2 linked regions of the Homo sapiens genome follow. The protein of the gene in region 2 purifies or fractionates together with the protein of the main gene of each other region. This does not show direct contact. Each region holds a gene or a part of one and is shown on either strand. Other genes may lie near its edges.

What was found.
Region 1: the proteins of SDCCAG8 (region 2) and OFD1 purify together in Homo sapiens (affinity purification with mass spectrometry; 2 studies listed by BioGRID and IntAct, with this or other methods). This does not show direct contact.

What each region holds. Positions count from the first base shown.
Region 1 is NC_000023.11:13,751,211-13,759,822, reverse strand, and holds part of OFD1 (centriole and centriolar satellite protein OFD1), read right to left. Parts: intron 8,575-8,612; coding exon 8,455-8,574; intron 7,120-8,454; exon of another isoform or gene 7,106-7,119; coding exon of another isoform or gene 6,993-7,105; intron 6,456-6,992; coding exon 6,382-6,455; intron 4,673-6,381; coding exon 4,581-4,672; intron 3,246-4,580; coding exon 3,056-3,245; intron 2,164-3,055; coding exon 2,033-2,163; intron 1,487-2,032; coding exon 1,375-1,486; intron 1-1,374. UniProt on the Homo sapiens protein: Component of the centrioles controlling mother and daughter centrioles length. Recruits to the centriole IFT88 and centriole distal appendage-specific proteins including CEP164. Involved in the biogenesis of the cilium, a centriole-associated function.
Region 2 is NC_000001.11:243,263,260-243,275,960, forward strand, and holds part of SDCCAG8 (serologically defined colon cancer antigen 8), read left to right. Parts: intron 1-4,361; exon of another isoform or gene 4,362-4,914; intron 4,915-6,832; exon of another isoform or gene 6,833-6,845; coding exon 6,846-6,998; intron 6,999-7,718; coding exon 7,719-7,804; intron 7,805-11,283; coding exon 11,284-11,397; intron 11,398-12,701. UniProt on the Homo sapiens protein: Plays a role in the establishment of cell polarity and epithelial lumen formation. Also plays an essential role in ciliogenesis and subsequent Hedgehog signaling pathway that requires the presence of intact primary cilia for pathway activation.

The sequences.
Region 1 (8,612 bases), on a different chromosome or scaffold from region 2:
CAAAGCCCAACCAGACTTGAACTCATTTGGTTGAAAAGTTTGACCTGAACTGATGTAAACCCATTTATAATCTTTATTTATCCCAGCATGAATATTCATACAGTTGACTGCAAAATAATTAATGTGCTTTACTATAGGATGCTGTTCAGAACTCCCAGGGCTATTGCGAAATCCACAGCATATGGCCCGAGTTTCATATAAGGAAGTGAGGACCTGCATTCACAACAACACTGTGGTCAAGAAACTCTCACTGCTCCCATTTTACAGATGGGGGGACTAAAGCTTACTGAGGCTGGGTCACACGGTTAGCAAGTCTAAGAGCTACTGGGCTTTCCTAATGCAAAGCCAGTGCACCTGCCCCTCTCTCCTGCAATGCCTCCCCGTGATGCTACAAGAAAGAAGCTTGCCCTCGGCAACACATGCATGCGAAAGAGTTCTATCCTCATTCAACTATTTTTTATTGATAGGAGACTGCTATGATTTCAGCTGTGAGAAGTTTCACAAACAGAACTGAAAGAAAATGAGGAACAGAAAAAAGCAGAAACGAGTAGAGATAAAAATAAAACAAGTGCTGGTAGAAGAGAGCAAGGAGCTGATGAGGAAACAATGCAGGTGGGAACAAGGAAGGCTCAGACCCAGTTGAACTGGTAACACATACGTACTTTCTTTGAACTTGAAAGCAACTGAAGAATAAAGTATCTGAACTTTAATATCCTTCTTACGAAGTAGGAAGGGGCAGAGATGCATCCACAGTGAAGACACAATAATAAAATGATACCAATAACCATTTCCTGAGTGTCTTTTATGTCCCAGGCACTGGACTGAAACCCATTTCATCTTTTTCATCATGGCTCAGTAGGTATTATTATCCCCATTACAAATGAGGAGACTGAGGCCCAAGGAAGTTAAAGTAACATGCCCAAGGTCAAACAACTTCAAAACGGGTCCAAAAGAAGAACAGTTCTGATTCTGAAGGCAATATTCTTTTTGCTAAACCACCCTGCTTGTCCTGTATATTTATATATCTATCAAGGAATCCGTAAAACTACTGAATTGGTGTTAACATTGGGGTAACAAATAAAAAAGGAAATCCTATAATGAATATGGGGACTTCTATGTTACCACCACGCCTTTCCTATTGGGGCATGAGACTCTCCCAAGCCATGAGGCACCTATGAAGCAAAATACTTTTGCTGATGATCCAGATGGTATTACCAAAATGGATAGGGAGTTTTACTTCTAAGATGACACATATTTCTATGGCTTTTCCCCTAAAACAATAATTAATATTCAATAAATTATGATCATTACATTTTCACAGACACCAGAAGCTTTATACATACAAAAATATTTATGGGTTAAAACGTCTCTAACCTGTCTGAGTTTGCTTCAGTTGCAATTTTAAATCGGCAACCTGAGTAGTTAAACTCTTTACAGAAGCTTTGTAACCTAGAATCTGGGCCTTCAGCTGTGCAGAATGCTCAATCTGAAAAGATTCAGAATAGGAAAAGAAATCAATGTAAAACAAATCACAGCTTGCTTCAAAAGGAAAAGTTCTCTTATCATGTTTGTACTCTTTTTGTTCTGCCAATTCCAAGAAGCTTTATGACAGTAAACAACAGGGTCCCTATTAAAAAAAAACACAAGCAGAACACACAAACAAGTTCTTCACCATCTTTTTCAGTCATATCAAAGAACTCTAGGGCATGCAGGCAGAAATCAGAAGACAGTGAATGTTTGTAATACTTATCAGGGTGAGAATCGAGAGATAACAGTGGGCACCATCAGGCACTCAGAAAATTTTATGTTTAGGTGAGTTTGCTTTCTTCTCCATTTTATTACTATTACGAATATAAAGTCACGTTATCACTGCAGAATTTTCTCAGATGAGAAAGGATACCTTTAGCATATTTGGGGGAGTAATGTTTGATGTTAAAATAAATCTGATTTACACTAGTGTGACTTGTGCCAAGTTTACGTAACTATGAAGTGTACTGGTATCACACTAGAACTGAAGAAGAGCAATACTCACTTCGTCTTGCAGTTGTTTGTGCAGAGCTTGCCTGCAGCTTTCGAACTCCTCATGCTCAACCACTATAGCCTTTTCGGCTTTCCGTAGTTCTTTCTGAAAGACTGCAAGTTCAGGAGCCGGCTGAGCTAGGCCTAAGAAGGTAAAAAAAAAAAAAAAATCCTAGTCATTACCAACCTTAAGTTTTCTTATTTAACTTAACAAAAACAGTTAAAGGGGTTTTAAAGTGTTCTTTGCTTTGTACTGACTCAATAAATATGATAATAATTCTATTAAATGAGCTCAGAGCAATCCTGACTCTCAAATTTCACAACAAAAGAATTTAGTGCATGTTAATGCAAACTTTATTACCCTTGGAGTCCTACTCCAAGTAAAAGAACTCTTTCAAATTCTCAAATTAACCTGAAAGCCTGTTTCTCTCCTCTACTGTGCACAGAAGGAGCTCTCTATCTGGTCTACCTGTTGATGACAGCCCTGGGATCCAATATGATCTGGGCATCTGACAGCAGCAGTTGGGATCCAGGCAGAAGGCAGATGGCTCTCACGGTCAAGGTCATCTAAGAACCCTTTAATAAAGGTTGACTTATTCAGGGTATGCACAAAGGATGGTGGAGTTCCCTGGGTGGGCTAGTAACAGGGCCATACTGTTAGCGCTCCTTGGGCCTGGGGAATCAGAGGAGGGAGAAATTCTCAGCACTAGAGACAGGGTGGTGGTGCAGAGCACTTGGAAGAGGTAATCGCAGGCACTATGGCCTCACTTGGCCATGAGGCACAGTGGCCAGCCTAGGGCCACTGTATGTAGAGGCTGGTGTCCCCACTGGCCAAACCCAATCAGCAGTCAGAGGGCAAGGGAAGCTTTGATACCACCTATAGGCAGGTTTGCAGAGTTTAATCCAAGAATCTTAATTTTATAAATCTTCCCAATGTAAGCCCCCTACCTTATACAAGTACAAAGCATAGTTTTATAATACTGACCTAATGCGAATTACTAAAACACGCAAGTCAGAAGAAAAGAAAAATACATACGGTTTAGGAGACGCAGGTTTTCATTTCTACTCTCTTCCAGTTGTTGTTTAAGTAATTTATTTTGTGCCAGAAGCTCCAGTTTCTCTTCTTTTAGTAGTGAATAATCACTCATCTCTTTAACCTTTTCATTCAGCATATGGTTTTGTTTTGTTATTGCCAAAGACTGGGCTTTGACAGACTCTAATTCAAGCTAAAATTCAAAAAGGAAAATTTACATTTGAATAATGACTTTACAGTACTGCAAAAGTAAAAGCTGGCAGGCTCCTTTAAGCATGGTGTCACAATTTAATTAAGGTCACTAGACAGAAGTCTGATTCTCTACAATAAGACTCTAACTACAATAACGAAAATTATCTTCCGCCCTACAGTTGGGGCAGAACTTTTATAGGCCGCATCCCATGAAGCAAGTCCTTCTAAGATTATCATCCCATTTTCCAGAGGCAACCAAGAACCCAACAATAATCACACATCATAGCAATATATATTTTTTAAATATGAAAGGTAAGATAAAAATGGCTGAGCATGGTGGCTCACGCCCGTAATCGCAGCACTTTGGGAGGCTGAGGCAAGAGGATTGCTTGAGCTCAGGAGTTCGAGACCACCCTGGGCAACATGGTGAAACCCCATCTCTACTAAAAATACAACAATTAGCTGGGTGTGGTGGCACATGGCTGAAATCCCAGCTACTTGGGAGCTGAGACATGAGAATCACTTGAACCCGGGAGGTGGAGGTTGGTTGCAGTGAGCCAAGATCACACCACTGCACTCCAGCCTGGGCGAAAGAACAAGACTCTGTCTCAAAAAAAAAAAAAAAAAAAAAAGGGAAAGAAAGGAAAAAAGATTCTGTAAAATGTTGTGAAGTGCTTCCCTTTTCTTAGTATATCTCATATTTGAGTAAAAAGCCTACAAAGTTCTCACATAAGTCACAGTTGCTAAAATAAATTTCATATACAAAATATGTTGTAAGTACCTAAAGTTCCAGCTTCATCCTTCAGACAGCAAGCACACGAATGAACAGAAAAGTAAAGAAGCAATGATATGTGAAAAATGTACCTCATTTTGTTTTAATCTGTAAGATAACAATGTAATGACAGGAATTTTGTTTACCTGCTGCTGATGGAAGGAGATAACAGGCTGATGTAGAAACTAATAGTAATGGCCACCTGCTATGAACTAGGCACATAAGTTAGCTTACTGAATTCCCTCAACAACCCTATAATGTGGAAAACATCCTAGTTTACAGCTCAGGAACCTGCAGTCACAGAACTTACCTAGCGACACACAAGCAGTTAGAGACACAGACAGGATGTGGGCAGGACTCCAGGACCCAAAGCTCTATCTACACTTTCCTATGTGACACTGACTGAAATTAAGAACTATTGAATTAACTTCAGCTAACACCTTCTTAGCCATATAAATGGCAGTCCAAACATCTCAACAGGATGACTTAGGATAAATTATGTATGACTAAAATTTCATATATTGCTTAAAATCTATTTCAAAAACCAACATGCTTAACAATTACCTCAAGTTCTTTCACACGATTTACAGATTGATTGAGTTCCTCCTTTTTTGAATTAATAGCTATGAGCTCCTCTTGCAAATGAACAGCTTTTTCTGAAAAAAGAGCCCACCAATTAAACACCATAATGTTTTCCTAGTGAATACAAAAGCCATTTAATATTTATGGCCAGTATGTCAGACCTAATGACCACTATTTCACAATCCAAATAGCAGATGTAGCGGGCAAGTAAGAAATAAACCCTGTTACCCAACAGGTGATGTGAAGCTGTAACTGTCATATATGTGGTGAAATTCCACTTGCTATACATGCTAACCAGAGTTATACCATGTGCTCAAAGCACAGGGCCCTAATACCCACAGCTCTTAACTTCCTTGAAGACAAAGATCTGTCTGTTACTATATTGTAGTTACTATTTTGTAGTTTTCACTTCATCTAACACAAGTCTATGTAGATATATCATCAAACCATAATTTGTTACATACGTAATGGTATTAATGCATAAAAGAAGTATTAGTCTCCACAAGATAGTAAAAGGGGCTGGGCACAGTGGCTCACGCCTGTAATCCCAGCACTTTGGGAGGCCAAGTCAGGCGGACCACCTGAGGTCACGAGTTCGAGACCAGCCTGGCCAACATGGTGAAACTCTCTCTCTACAAAAATTAGCCAGGCATGGTGGCGCACACCTGTAGTCCCAGCTACTTGGGAGGCTGAGGCACAAGAATCACTTGAACCCAGGAGGCAGAGGTTGCAGTGAGCTGAGATTGTGCCACTGTACTCCAGCCTGGGCAACAGAGCAAGACTCCGTCTCTTAAAAAAAAAAAAAAAAAAAGACAGTAGCCACACATTGGGTATCTGGTCAACATCAACTATCTAACCCTGGTTTCCTCCCAGGAATCTACTTGAAATTTCCACCAAAACTTCAACTTCTTGTTACAGCAATTTCCTAGAAATACATTGAAATGGGTCGGGCGTGGTGGCTCACGCCTGTAATCCCAGCACTTTGGGAGGCCGAGGCGGGCGGATCACGAGGTCAGGAGATCGAGATCATCCTGGCTAACACGCTGAGACCCCGCCTCTACTAAAAATACAAAAAATTAGCCGGGCGTGTTGGTGGGTGCCTGTAGTCCCAGCTACTGGGGAGGCTGAGGTGGAAGAATGGCGTGAACCTGGGAGGTGGAGCTTGTAGTGAGCCGAGATCGCACCACTGCACTCCAGCCTAGGTGACAGAGCGAGACTCCGTCTCAAAAAAAAAAAAAAATACACTGAAATGTAAAACATCTGAAGATTGAAAAATTATTCAACTTCCATAGTCTCAGGCCAATGTACACAAGAGTTCAGAAGGTTATACATCAAGTAAAAATATTATAAAGCATAAAAATATATTAGAAGCAAAAGAAATAAGAAACTAGGTCACAGAGGACAGAGAAGTTAAAAGTTTTCCGTAAGTGAAAAATAAAGTCTCTCATGGTTAGGAGTAATACGTACTTGACAGCAATAAGTTGCTGCTACGTTCCTGACAATTGCAGATTTATCAAAATATATGAAATAAAGTTGGATAAAATATCCATGATAAATCACTGGCCTTTGTGAATATACAAACTATTAAACATGAAGGTTCCTCAAAAGGCAGTGAAGACCATGATTTTTAATTTATAAAATTAAAATTACAAAAAATGTGTAATTTTGTATGAACAATGAAGTGTAAGCTGTATTTTTTAGAATATAGAAAAGACCCAACTTGGGAAGCTAATAACCTACAGCAGAACTGAAAAATACAGCTTATTTTCCCCCCAAACATCACCTTTATTCTTCCTTTCATCTTCAATCAGTCGATTAGTTCTAATGATGTAGTCATCCTTCAGTTCAAGTTGATACCTGAGAATCAGAATGACTAAATATGAGCTCCTCAGGCATTTTTCTGGAAAGACTGTTATCAGTGCAGGAGCTTATCTATGGCACAGGAGCACCTGAGGGTGCTAAACATGACAACTTGTAAACTTCAAAGTCCTCAATACTAAAGCCAGGGATATAACCCCTGAACATAAAATGCCCAGTAAAACCCTTCCTTGATCCTATAAACTGGGTCCCAAAACTCAATCACACAAAATGAAGCGTCGTGTTATCATAAGGTTACTTACTGAAAGCAATCACTTTTCAGTTGGTCTCAACTGACACAAAGAGCAAAGGGGTAAATTAAATTTACACAGCACACAACAGACTCAATCCCAAATGATAATCAGACGGTCACTTCCAATCCACCTGTACCATCTGCCCACCCCCAACCAAGGTAAGAACTTTTGTGCTCAGGGACTAAGCACAGTCCTGAGAGCCAACTGCCAAGAGCATTATATCCGGATTAGCAATACCAAAAGGCACATTTTCACAGTTTCACTTCCCTTTCCCAGCTGTTACCAGCTGCCCTTTTGGTTCCAAAAGGAAATAGAAGCACTCCTGTGGCGAAGAGCCTCCAAACTCCAACACCTGCCAAAGTCATATGAGGATTCCCAAAGCCAGGCAGACACCATGCAGCCTGTGGAAGCTGTCACAATGACACCAAATAGTTCACTAGCTCCATAACTATGTAAAATTAACACACATACTTTAATTCATTTATTCCTAAAAATTCAGCAACTACAGACACTTCCATTTTAGCTATTTTAGTATAGAAACTGACATAGAAGATGTGGGTAAAATACATCATTTCAAAATCAATAGATAAAAAAGCTGCCATATTTTTTAAAAATAGGATTTGTTTAAAGGATTACCTCAAGAAACCTTTGCAATATTATGTAATGGAATATCGATGACAAATTATGAGAAAGGCAATAAAAGAGGCCAAATAAGAAATGCCCAGAGCACCTGAGTTGAATCATTTCCTCGTGACACATTTACAACAAATATTAACTGAGCACTTTTTATGTGCCAGATGCTTTCCCACACACTGAAGAGAAATGTTACCACATGGGCATAATGTCGTAGCACTGAGATATTATTCACTGATACACAAAACTCAGACTACAGAAAAGCCAAAGTTACCATAGTTGTCCATATTTTCCTTTCCCTATATCACTTTTTGCCTCACATAGTTAATTTTAGCTCTTTTGATTCTGGCTTTGCTGAATCTTGAAGGAATACAAGGCACATGTTCACTGACAAATACTATGACCACTAGTATAATTTATATATTGTCAGATAACCCCATCCTTCTGACTGTATGAGTGAGGTAGAGGAAAAGATAACTAAAAGTGGTTATAATTCCAATTTTACAGCTTATCAACTATGCAAGCTAAGCAAGTCACAAGGTGTCCTGAAAATTAAAGCAAATCACAGCCCACAATAAACGTTAGAGAAGCCATAAGAAGCGCAGAGGATGTGCTTCTCTGTATTTTTTTATTGTTGTTAATTTTTGAGATGGATTGTCACTGTCACGCAGGCTAGTAGAGTGCAGTAGCACAACTTCAGTTCACTGCAACGTCTGCCTCCCGGGTTCAAGTGATTCTCCTGCCTCAGCCTCCCCAGTAGCTGGGATTACAAGTGCCCACCACCACACCCAGCTAATTTTTGTATTTTTAGTAGAGATGGGGTTTCACCATGTTGGCTAGGCTGGTCTTGCACTCCTGACCTCAGGTGATCCGCCCACCTCAGCCTCCCAGAGTGCTGGGATTATAGGCATGAGCCACCACACCCGGCCCTTATCTTTTAAAAACTATCCTAACTCAAATGCAGGAAAGGATTGACTGTATCGATAAAACTATGTTTTTTTTTTTTCAAACACTAAAGTTTGCCTAAGTTACAGACTACTTTGTCAGTTTTTGTTATGTTTCTACCAATTTAATTTAAACATATTAGTTATTTAAAAATGCTAAACAATTACTTTAGAAGTTCATTCTTGAGCTTTCGGTCATAGGTCTCCTCAAAACTCTTTATATTCTGCTCCTGTCTCCTAAGTGCCTCAGTTATGCTTTTATGTTTTTCTTCCTGGAGCTTCTGGTTCCTGAAATTAACAAAAATATAAAAAGTAAATAAACTACC
Region 2 (12,701 bases):
TGCTGCTGGCCTCTGGTAGGCAGAAGCCAGGGATGCTATTAAACTGGCACAACACAGCCCCTTCCAAAAGAGAATTATCAGGTCCAAACTGTCAATAGTGCTGAGGTTGAGAAATCACGATCTAGAAGTACAGGCTTTGCTTGTAGCCCTTGATCTGCAAGAATCCTACTTTACAGTAATTACAAGTAAGGATATACAGATTGTATTTGCTGGTGATTTTACCTATGTTCTTTGCCAGCCTGGCTAGGTTTACTTCTTTTATCAGTGGAAAGTGACAGGTGCATCAGTCCTCTCCACTGATGCCAAAGAAATACCAGGTGTATCCCTTAGAATGCATATAGCCAATCTCCTGGATTTGCCAACACCCACATATCTTTAATGGTCTTCCAGACATTGCTTTCTTAAGATGTTTACATTCTTTATCAGATTATCTTTTACTCCTGGCGCCAACCACTTTAGCATGTTTTCAGTTATTAGAGTCTTAGGATAGTATTTTCTTTGAGATTCAAACAAAAAAGTATTCTACATAGTACTTGTAATCTCTTTCACAATTGTAATTGCCTTTCACAAAGCCGACATTGTCTGATTTTTTGATTCTGCTGTTTATATCTTGGTAGTGTTACCTGTTGGTCCCCTAGTAAACAGTGACAGCAATCTTCTGAACCAGGCTGAGGCCCAGTCAAGTGTAGATAGACATGTATTTCTTATCTCACTGTGGTTTTATTTTTCTGCATGTCTGCCCTAATCAAAGCTTGTGCTGGGAGCTGCAGTGCATCTCATATCTCGGCCTCGGGAGGAATGGTTCATTGCATATTCTCTCAGAGACAGCTGGGCGCTTCGCAGGGAGTGGTCCCCCTCCCTGTCACCAGGGCAATTCTCTTTCACATCTCCCAGGACAGATGGAGAATGAAGAAATTAATAATTCATAGTGTGTATTTAAGTGGTGATTCTTCCTAGACTGAGACATACTTGCATTTTGTTCAAAAACATCTTGATGAAGACAGGCCCAGTGGTGACCTAAGAGTTAGAACATAGGAAGTAGGGAAACTCTTACTAAGAAAATGGACAATACAGGCCAGGCAGGGTGGCTCACGCCTGTAATCCCAGCACTTTGGGAGGCTGAGGCGGAAGGATCACCTGAGGTCGAGGGTTTGAGACCAGCCTGACCAACATGGAGAAACCCTGTCTCTACCAAAAATACAAAATTACCCAGGTGTGGTGGTGCATGCCTGTAATCCCAGCTACTCAGGAGGCTGAGGCAGGAGAATTGCTTGAACCTGGGAGGCGGAGGTTGCAGTGAGCCGAGATTGCACCATTGCACTCCAGCCTGGGCAACCAGAGCGAAAACTCCATCTCAAAAAAAAAAGAAGAAAGAAAATGGACAAGACAGACTGAAATTAGCTAGCAGCCATTAGCTCAGGTACCTTTTAAGTGCTCATTGTACTGATTGATGTTTGGATAGTGCATTAGCAGAAATATTATCTACTTGCACTTACGTTCATGTGATCTGTAGGACTCAGGGGTCCTGTTTGTGTCTGTAGTCATAGTTAAGTTTATAGTCAGTTCCTGGTTGGTGCTGGGGAAAAGAAATCAGGATGCATTCATTGTGAAATACCCTTACTGTCCTCTCAGGAGAGAAGAGGAAATGAGTGTGTTCTCTCTCTTGGTTAGAAACAGATAAAGCTGTGTCCCATTAGCAGTTGGATAGGAAACGGTAACTGGAACCTTCTGTCTAATCTGGTTTCCTTAAATGTAAGGAGCAGATAACTGCATCTGGGGAGTAGTGCTCTTAATAAGGATTATGGGGGCTTCAGTTGCAATGGCTCCAGTTGAAGAGCCATGGGATTTCATCTGTCCTGAATCATCTGAGTGTTATTCTTCTTCACATTAACTGTGTTTATCTGTTATAGTATATAATTATGCTGGTTTGTTATGTATTTGAAAAGCACTTAGCATGTTTTGAAATGTAGCGTTGAAATGACTTTAAAATGTCAACTCTGTAGTTTTAGTTTTAGGGCACAGTTCTTGCAAATTCCTGCTTTTCCTCTCTGACCCTAGTAACTCTGAAATCAGTAGTTGCAAACAAACAAACCCTAAAGCCTTGTGTGTCACTTTTCTTTGGGATAGTTGTTGAATTCAATAGCTCATTATTTCACGTAATATTATGTTCATAGTGCAATTTAACATGTAGTCTTTGAATGTTATAAATTCTAAAAGATTAAACAAGAACATTAGAAAAGGAATGAAAAGTGCTCTTAAAATCCTGCCCTAGGCCGGGCATGGTGGCTCACTCCTGTAATCCCAGCACTTTGGGAGGCCAAGGTGGGTGGATCACCTGAGGTTAGGAGTTTGAGACCAGCCTGGCCAACACGGTGAAACCCCATCTCTACTAAAAATACAAAAATTAGGTGGGTGTGGTGGCGCATGCCTGTAATCCCAGCTACTCGGGAGGCTGAGGCAGGAAAAATGCTTGAACCTGGGAGGCGGAGGTTGCAGTGAGCCAAGATCGCACCATTGCACTCCAGCCTGGGGACAACAGGGAGACTTCGTCTCCAAAAAAAAAAAAAACTCCTGCCTTTCTTGTAATCTGATGAAAGAACTCTGCCTACAGAGGCTTTTAACTATGCAAATTCTTTCCATATTTTTTTTCTTTTTCCTAATATAGTTTATTAGCTTTTACTCAGACTAGGTATAAATAAATAATTATCCCTTGCCTTAGAGGTGAAGTCATTTGAAAGCTCCATGGAATACATTTCTTCTTTAAAAACGCAACAAAAATTTTTTATTGTAAATTGACAATTTATAATTGTATAAATTTATGGGTTACAAAGTGATGTCATAAATTGTGGATACAATGTGGAATAATTAAATAAAGCTAGTTAACATATCCAATACTTCCAATACATTTCTGTGATGAGAACATCAATTTTGAAATGTGTAATACTCCATTATTAAGTATATGCACCACACTGTACAATAGAACTCAAAAAAAGTATAAAACATATTCTTCCTGTCTGAGATTTTGTACCCTTTGACCATCACTGAATTTTTTTTTCTTTTTCTTTTTTTTTTTTTATGAGACAGTCTCACTCTGTCACCCAGCCTGGAATGCAGTGGTGTGATCTCGGCTCACTGCAACCTCCGCCCCCCGGCTTCAAGCAACTCTGTTGCCTCAGCCTCCCCAGCAGCCAGGACCACAGGCACACAACACCACAACCTGCCAACCTTTTTTGTATTTTTAGTACAGATGGGGTTTTGTCACGTTGTTCAGGCTGGTCTTGAACTCTTGACCTCAGGTGATCCACCCACCTTAGCCTCCCAAAGTCCCAGGACCACAGACATGAGCCACTGTGCCTGGACTAAAATTTTTATGAGACAAAATATCAATTTCAAAACAGCATCAAAAAGTGAGTAGGCCAGGCACGGTGGCTCATGCCTGCAATCCCAGCACTTTGGGAGGCCGAGGTGTATTTTTCTGTACTAAAAATACAAAAGTATTTGTCTCTATTATAAATACAAAAAAAAAAAAAGAAATTAGCTGGGCACTGTGGCACATGCCTGCAATCCCAGCCACTCAGGAGGCTGAGGAAGGAGAACCATCTGAACCCTGGAGGCAGAGCCACAGTGAGCTGAGACTGCACTACTTGCACTCCAGCCTGGGCAACAAGAGTGCAACTTCGTCTCAAAAAAAAAAAAAAAAAAATGCTGGGCGCGGTGGCTCACGCTTGTAACCCCAGCACTTTGGGAGGCCGAGGCAGGCGGATCACAAAGTCAGGAGATCGAGACCATCCTCGCTAACACGGTGAAACCCTGTCTGTACTAAAAGTACAAAAATTAGCTGCGCGTGGTGGCGTGTAACTGTAGTCCCAGTTTCTCGGGAGGCTGAGGCAGGAGAATGGCGTGAACCTGAGAGGCGGAGGTTGTAGTGAGTGAAGATCGCACCACTACACTGCAGCCTGGGCGACAGAGCGAGACTCCGTCTTAAAAAAAAAAAAAAGAAATATACATGATAGGAATTCCAGGAATCTTATGGATTCTTCTTTTAAGGTCCCGGTCACTGGGCGTGGTGGCTTACGCCTGTAATCCCAAGACTTTTGGAGGCTGAGACGGGCGGATTTCACCTGAGGTCGGGAGTTTGAGACCAGCCTGACCAACGTGGAGAAACCCCGTCTCTACTAAAAAAAAATACAGAATTAGCCGGGCGTGGTGACAGGTACCTGTAATCCCAGCTATTGGGGAGGCTGAGGCAGGAGAATCGCTTGAACCCGAGAGGCGGAGGGTGCGGTGAGCCGAGATTGCGCCATCGCACTCCAGCCTGGGCGACAAGAGCCAAACTCCCTCTCAAGAAAAAAAAAAAAAAAGTCCCGGTCAACTGTGGGCACAATGTAACACTTACACACACTTAGGCTGAGTTACTCTCTGTACTAAGCAGTCATGTGCATAGGTTCCTGTGTGTGTACATGGTAATTGTTCAAATCTTGGATCCTTGGCGATCCTTAGAGCCACTCAATACTTCTGCCCCAATTTCTCAATTTCAGCCATTACACAATCAGTTATACAAGGGATACACTTGACATGCAGACAGCCCATCATTGACTGCACTAAGTCCAGTTTGGCTTTTATGGAAAAGTTGATAAAGTTGGTATCAACGAGGATGTGGTAAGGTGGGCCCAGCTGTGTATTATATTGGCAAAATAATCAGGAAAGGTGTTGCGGAACTTCTCTTTCCTTTAACGCGCTGGGATCCTTCTTTTCTTTCTCTTTAGGTTTTAATCTATCCTTTTCTTTAAGCCTCTGATCTCTGAGACTAAGCGTTTGCTTCATGGTTGTATAGTTCCTCATTTTCTTTTGCTTCCTCATGGTCACACCACACTCCTGTTTCTTCCGTAATCACCAACGGTGCAATGCTTTTACCTGGAATACATTTTTATGTTAGTCAAACTGTCTCGTTCCTTTCTAATAGATTCAATAAAGATAAGTGTTTTATTCGTGGATTTAAGGGCATAAATCTAAAGCTCCATGAACTGAATTGCTTATCATGTAACACTTTGATTTTCCTTTTCCATGACCAAATCGCTTTTCTATTCTATTTTCTAATACTAAGTTATTGTAAAACTATCACAGTTTCATATATTCCCAAAACCAGGAATGCGTCTTATCTGAACTTCCTTAAACTCATGATGAGTCAGAGGAGGCCAGTTTTCATTAGTAATCAGCGCCAAATTCATTTCAAAGAAAGATCTGTGTGGACATAGGATTGGTATGGAGAAAAATATGGTGATAAATTAACTGTGTCTCTTGTATAGTTGAGTAATAGAATTTCATTGTCGAACCCTGACCTGAAATACATGTTTTCTTTTATCAAAGTAGAAAATGAGTTGCTGCAAGTAAAGAAACTGTATTAGATATTGTATAACAGAGACTTTTTTTTTCTATTAAGTACTAACATTGCTTTTGTTTCTGTTCCAAACTTTGAAATCAGTGCACTTGGACAAAATGGAAACTGCTTTTCAAGGTCCTACAGAATATATGTTTATAAATGTATTTTTATACATGGTTGGTAATGAATCAGGTCTCTTTCGTGCCATTGCAGTTAGAGGGCCTCTGGTGCTGGAGTCCTCTGGAGGACTGGGCTGTCAGAGTGGGGCAGCGGGGTGCAGCGCGGGGAGGGCTTTTCTCTTTCTTCGTGCCTCTGGTGCTGGAGTCCTCTGGAGGACTGGGCTGTCAGAGTGGGGCAGCGGGGTGCAGTGCGGGGAGGGCTTTTCTCTTTCTTCATGGGGTCTCAGGGCCTCTCTCTTCCTCTCCACGTATGCTCTTCACAGGTCTCTCCAGCAGGGTAGTCAGATATCTTACATAGCGGCTTAGGGCTCCCAAAAGCAAACATTCCAAGAGGAAGCAGAAGCTGCCAGTCCTTTTAAAGATGAGGCTTGGGTGTGACATGGTATAACTTTTATTGCATTCTATTGGTTAATGCAGATTACAGGCCCAGTCAGTTTCAGATTAGAAGAGAACAAGGGAATGAGGCTGGGTTCCTTGGAGGCTATTTTTTTTTTTTTTTTTTTCTGAAACAGTCTCGCTCTCTTGCCAGGCTGGAGTGCAGTGGTGCGATCTCGGCTCGCTGCAACCCCTTGGAGGCTATTTTTAGAGATGAACTATCACAGTAATATACCTTAAAATACTTCATTTTAGACAGTTTTTGTGTGTTCTAGGGGTGGTCAGTTGCACTAACCAAGAATCTATGAGGTGTGGTTGGCCAGCAGTATATAGAAAGAGCTGTACCGCCGGGGCTGCCACTATAAGCACTTCAGCTATGCAAATTTTGATCAAAACTAGGCCAGACATGTGGATGTCTCTTGGTGGGGGAGGGATTTCCTGTCCCCAGGGACAATGAGGCTTCCCTAGGTTGGAACTGGGTGTGACGCAGTCCCTTTTGCTGGCTCTTCCCACCTCCCCACTGCTCCTTTCGTCCCCCTCTGTCTCCAAGTTGGTAAAGGAGTCAGGCATGGTGGGAAGGAGAGCACTTCCCTTAGCAAGTTATTGTTTAATGGGAGCTGGTGGGAAGAGTTCTGTCATTTAATCCTTGCCGGTGGTGCTATATGTAGTGAAATCAACTGCTACAGTGGTAGGGGCCTTAGAGATCATCAAGTCCTACCTCTAAACCATGAAGTTAATCTTCTCTCACCATCTTTGGCACATCCCTCAGCAAGCTAGAAACAGAACTCTGCGTTTTTTCCATAAAGTACGAGAAATAATGATTTCACCTTTAAAAACTGCCTTCCTGAGTAAGTGTCCGTTTGGTCAACCAGACTCCATGGGTCCTAACTTTCGTCAGGTTGTTCTTGCAGAACATGCCAGCAGAAGCATTCACCAACTGACATGTGCCCTGAAAGAAGGCGATGTCACTATTGGAGAAGATGCACCAAATCTTTCTTTTAGCACCAGTGTGGGAAATGAGGACGCCAGGACAGCCTGGCCCGAATTACAACAGAGCCATGCTGGTGAGTGTGAATGTCAATCCTAGTCTGAATGATGCATAGTGAATTTTTTAAACTCCGTAGAATAATAACTCCATTCATTCTTCATTCTGCTGCTATGATGTTATTCCTCAAACACAAATCAGATAATTTAATTCCCTCGCTTAATCTTGTTTTCCTTTGACTTCCCAATGCTTATAGGCTAAAGTCCAAAATTCTTAGTTATAAAATAACAGTGTTTTCCTAAGATAGCTCTAACCTGCCTCTTCGGCTCATCTTTGTGTACTTCTCATGCTAATCATCCATCTCACAACTCATATTCTAGTTATAATAACCTCCTCTCTATGCTTTTATGCTTTGACATGTGCAGTGACTTCTAACTGGAATTTTTCTTATCCTTTTCTGCTTGGTGAACTCCTTCCTGTTTATCCTTGCAGTGTTATCTCCTCTGTGAAAACAAGCACAATTAGCTTCTTCCTCTTCTTGTAGCACTGTGCATAGCTTTAGGTCTACATACAAACTTATTTTATATCTATTAGTGTCTCTCTCTTCCTTGCTAGATTCTTAGCTCTTAAGGGGTAGAAATTCTTTTTTTTTTTTTATGTTGGTCTTGTATCCCCAGTTGATAGCAGAATTCTTGATGCATAATATATCAGCAATTTTTATTAGTTGGAAGGATGGATGGGTGGTAAGAAACCATGGATCTCAAATAAGGTTAATAAACCCTCTGCTTTTGCTCTATAGTTAATCAGCTCAAAGATTTGTTGCGCCAACAAGCAGATAAGGAAAGTGAAGTATCTCCGTCAAGAAGAAGAAAAATGTCCCCCTTGGTAAGTATCAACTTTTCCAAGTTGACAAAGCATTCCTGTGTTTTACTGTATTGTGTTATTTTGTAGTACATGTTGCAGAAAAAATTTAAGCATGGCATACTAATAGTGAAAAACATTAAAAGTAATTCTCTTCCCTCTGATTATTTTGGCTGAAAAAATAGATTTCCATGGCAGAGGGAATCTTGATTTTTTAAATTTATTATTCACTTGGAAAATGGGAGCAAGGGAATAGTTTGGAGAATTTATTTTGCAACTGTTAGCAAAATATGTAATATAAATATATAATATATAATAAATTAATATAATAAATTATATGTCAGAATATATGTAAAAGATAAAGTCATTATTTTAGTAATTTCTTTTTTAGAGGGTCATATCTATTATTGATCATTTTTAGAAGTTACTTAATTATAATTGTAGCCCTACTTTGTAATATTTTTTAAATTTTGAGTGTCAAAATAATACATTTTATTTTTAATTAATTAATTAATTTTTTTGAGACAGAGTCTCATTCTGTTGCTCAGGCTAGAGTGCAGTGGCATGATCTCGCCTCACTACAACCTCTGCCTCCCTGGTTCAAGCGATTCTCCTGCCTCAGCCTCCCTAGTATTTGGGTTTACAGATGTGCACTACCACACCAGGCTAATTTTTTGTATTTTTAGTAGAGATGGGGTTTCACCATATTGGCTAGGCTGGTCTCGAACTCTGAACCTCAGGAAATCCATCAGCCTCGGCCTCCCAAAGCACCGGGATTATAGGTGTGAGCCACCGCGCCTGGCCTCAAAATAATACGTTTTAATATGTAATGTTCTATATGTTAAAATATATGGTTATAAAATAGTATGATATATAAGAAGTGGTGCTGTATTTCTTCTGAAGTTGTTTGTTATTGCTTTGACAGAGTGTATTATTTCTGATTAAAGCATTTTATATGCTAAAGGCTGAGATAGATGTGAGTGAAAGCACTCTGGACCAGATTTAAGTGGACAAAATAATAGTCAAGGGCTTAGTTCTATCTAGGGTCTATCACATACTCTCTAAGATATTGTGCCTGTCTCACAGAGTTTTTGGAATAATGAGATAAGATTACATACTTAAAATTCTTTAGAAACCTATGAAGTGTTACATAAACATAACATGCATAGCAGCAAGTAACCACCTCACATTTTCAATGTGTTTTCTAGTTCAATACAATGCCTGTATGCTGAAAAGTGTGGAGACATGTCACTTTCTTTTCTTCACCACTGAAATATCAGAGTATCACTCCCATACGAACACTCCATTCCAGGCTGACACATACTTTTAAGCTTAATTCCTACTTTAGAGAAATGTACTTCATATGCATATTCTAAATTTATAGATACAGATTTTATAATTTTAGTAAAACATCTCATCATTTAATGAATTTATTACTATTGACATCTGGTTTCTAGCTTGCTCTTAAGCACAGACTGGTGGAATGCTTTTAAATCTACTAGATGAAGTTGCTTTATCTGTTGAATGCTCAGACATGCTTATTTGCCTTTTAAAGTCTGAGCAGTGATATTATGGAGCTTACTGAATCCAGACAGGCAGGAAGACCTTCACTAAGAGAATCAGTTTAGTACATACAGAGTGCACTTTAAAATACACAAGTCTATTTATATGGAGCTATGTAAAAGAATGGAACTTAGACTCTATATGTATACAGCCTACATGTAATAATTATAAACCATAATAGTAATAATTAGCTTTTTAAGATTATACCTTTAGAATGCACTTTCATAGCCAGTATAACATATTAGAAATACATGCATATATTGAGAGTAAAACTGAGGCACTGTTGAGATGGAAAAAAAGTTATTACTTATTGTCTTAAAATGTAGATATCTAAACTAAAGCCCTTCAAAGTAGACACAAATGATTTCATGTGAACATTTTTCATACAATATTGGCTTGAGCTTTTTATTTTTCACATTGACTTCCTCCTGTATACTCATAGTAGTAATTTATATTTGCCTATCTTCTGAACCTATTGCTATTAATGGAGGATGATTATAATTGTTTGATTTCTACTCAGGACAGATAATTCATTTAATTAGAGTTACTTTGGTTTTTAAATTTCTTAAATATACCAAAAAACCAAAGCTCTATTTTATTTTATTCTGCCATGATAGCTGGTACTTGATTATCATTTAAAATGTCTGCTGTGCTGAGAAAGAGAGTGGCTGAGAAACAGACACTGTGCCTCATTTCAAGCTTTCCTCTGGCTTTGTTTAACTGGTTGACCCTTGTTTTACCTTTTCCTGATTTCCTCATCCTTTAAAAAAAAAATTATGTGATGGGTATATGATTTTACAAACTATTTTAGGATAAGGTAAGCTATACATTAACAGTCAGTTCCAGGAATGCTACAGAGCTAAAATAGCATTAGCGTTTTTTTGAAATCTCTTCGTTGGACCCCTCAATGCAGTGTGTCTCTACTTTAGGGTTCTACTCTTGGAGGTTCTATGCTCCAGAACACCATACACTTGAATTGCCTTCAATACTAGAGCCAAAAATCAAAAACTACATTTTGCTAATGTATCTTTTTTGAGATGGAATTTCATCGCATTGACACTGGCTTGGCATCAAACGCTTCCTAAAGAATCTCTCCTTCACGGAGCTGCTGCAGTTTTAGCTAGCAAATCCTCTTCCATGGCAGTTTCTTGGAGAGAGTTGTCCCTTGTATCTCAGCATTACTGAATGGAATGTTGTTTTTCCAATTTGTTAAAATAGTTTATTCCAAGCCAGTTATACTACTGCTACCCCAGCATTTTTCCATTCACTATATGTGCTTTTTATAACCACTTTCACCATCCATCTTTAAAAAAAATGATATTCACATCCATGAATCTTGTGTATTTGTGGAATTTATAGGATAGAGAAGCAAGTATTTGTATTAGTCCATTCTCGTGTTGCTAAAAATAAATACCTGAGGCTGGGTAATTTATTTAAAAAAGAGGTTTAATCAGCTCATGGTTCTGCAGGCTGTATAGGAAGTGTGATACTGGCATCTCACTCTGGTGAGGGCCTCAGGAAACTTTCAGTCATGGTGGAAGGTGAAAGGGGAGCAGGCATTTCATGTGGTGAGAGCCAGAGCAAGAAGTGGGAGAGGTGTCACATTCTTTTAAACAACCAAATCTCACCAAAACTCAGAGCAAGAACTCATTATCATGAGGATAGCACCAAGATTCATTCATCATGACCGAAACACCTCCCACCAGGCCCCACCTCCAATGCTGGGGGCCACATTTCAACTTGAGGTTTGTGGGGGACAAGCATCCAAACTATATCAAGACTATAAGCTACATTGTGATCGATTCTATGTTTATATCACATCAGTGCAAAATTGAGTATGGAGAAGGTAACAACTGATTCTTTGCTAAATCCAAACATGCTTAATTTGGCTTTTTAAAATTTATGTATTTATGTATTTATTTATTTATTTTTTGTCATAGAGGTCATTAGAACATGAGGAAACCAATATGCCTACTATGCACGACCTTGTTCATACTATTAATGACCAGTCTCAATATATTCATCATTTAGAGGCAGAAGTTAAGTTCTGCAAGGTAAGTTTCTCATTAAGAATTTAAAACTAAATAAATGAAAGCTTATATTAACTATAGATTGTATTAAAATTTGCTGCTATAAATCTTCATGTTTGTAGCAATACATTGACAATTGCTATTCTTACGTGATTGAGAGACTGATGTGTCACAAGAGCTTGTCAGACTTGGGAATGATGCTCTTGACCATACCATTTCTGATTGCTTGATTTCCCAGTAGTTCATTACTATGTCTAATGATTTCATAATATGCTTTCATATTTCAGAAGTTTTCCTTCTCACCCCGCTTGCTGTAGCCCAGCAAATGGCAAATGCTTTGGAATACAAATACCAATCATTCTCCCATACTTGTCAACCTACTGGAGCAGTGGTACAGCAATCAGGGATTCTAAACTGGTAGACCAATTCTTCTCCGCTGTCAGTATTAAGGCTCTTACTTTGACTTTGAATGAGAATGGTTCATAGGGTACTGACAGTAATGATCAAGAAACCAAACACATCATATATAGCTTATGACACTAGAAGGTTATATGCTCAACTGCGTGCAGTTTGCTAATGTCATTAATGCTAATAGAGCCTTTTCATCTTCCCGAAGTATGTCGTGTTTTACTTTTTTTTTTCTGTTTCTTTCTCTCTTTCTTTCTTTCCCTCCCTCTTTCTTTCTTTCTAGTATCAGTGTATTCGATTGTATGATATTTTTATAGGAATCACTGATATCTCTTGTATCATGTTTTTATATATAGTATATGATATTATGTATTATATTGTTGACATTTTAAGATGCAAGGCCAGTATGTAACTTAAGGAGGCTTTAGATGTTTCACTGTCCTGATTTTACCGGGGAGTTTCTGATCTTAACATGTAATTTCCTGTTTGTTCTTGGAGGACACAGTTATTAATATACACGTGGTCCTGGATTACCAGTAAAGCTGAAATAATATCCTAGGAACTATTTCATTAACAATACTCTATTAATCCCTAAGATGTTGTGGATAAAACTTGAAAGATATAAAGCAGAATAAATTTACTATCTAGTTGAGAAGACAGAACTATTCCCTATTAACACCATAAGGAGCACATTAGAGAACATAGTATAGGCCTTTACTTTTTGGTATAAGCTATAATTATAATAAGAGAAGAAGGTTAGGAAAAGCTACTGTCTTTGGGAATGTTTCTATGGGAGAGAGAGATCTTGAACCAATGTTTTTTTTTTTTTTTTTTTTTTTTTTTTGATGGAGTCTCGCATTGTCGCCAGACTGGAGTGCGGTGTCACAGTCTCCGCTCACTGCAACCTCCGACTCCCTGGT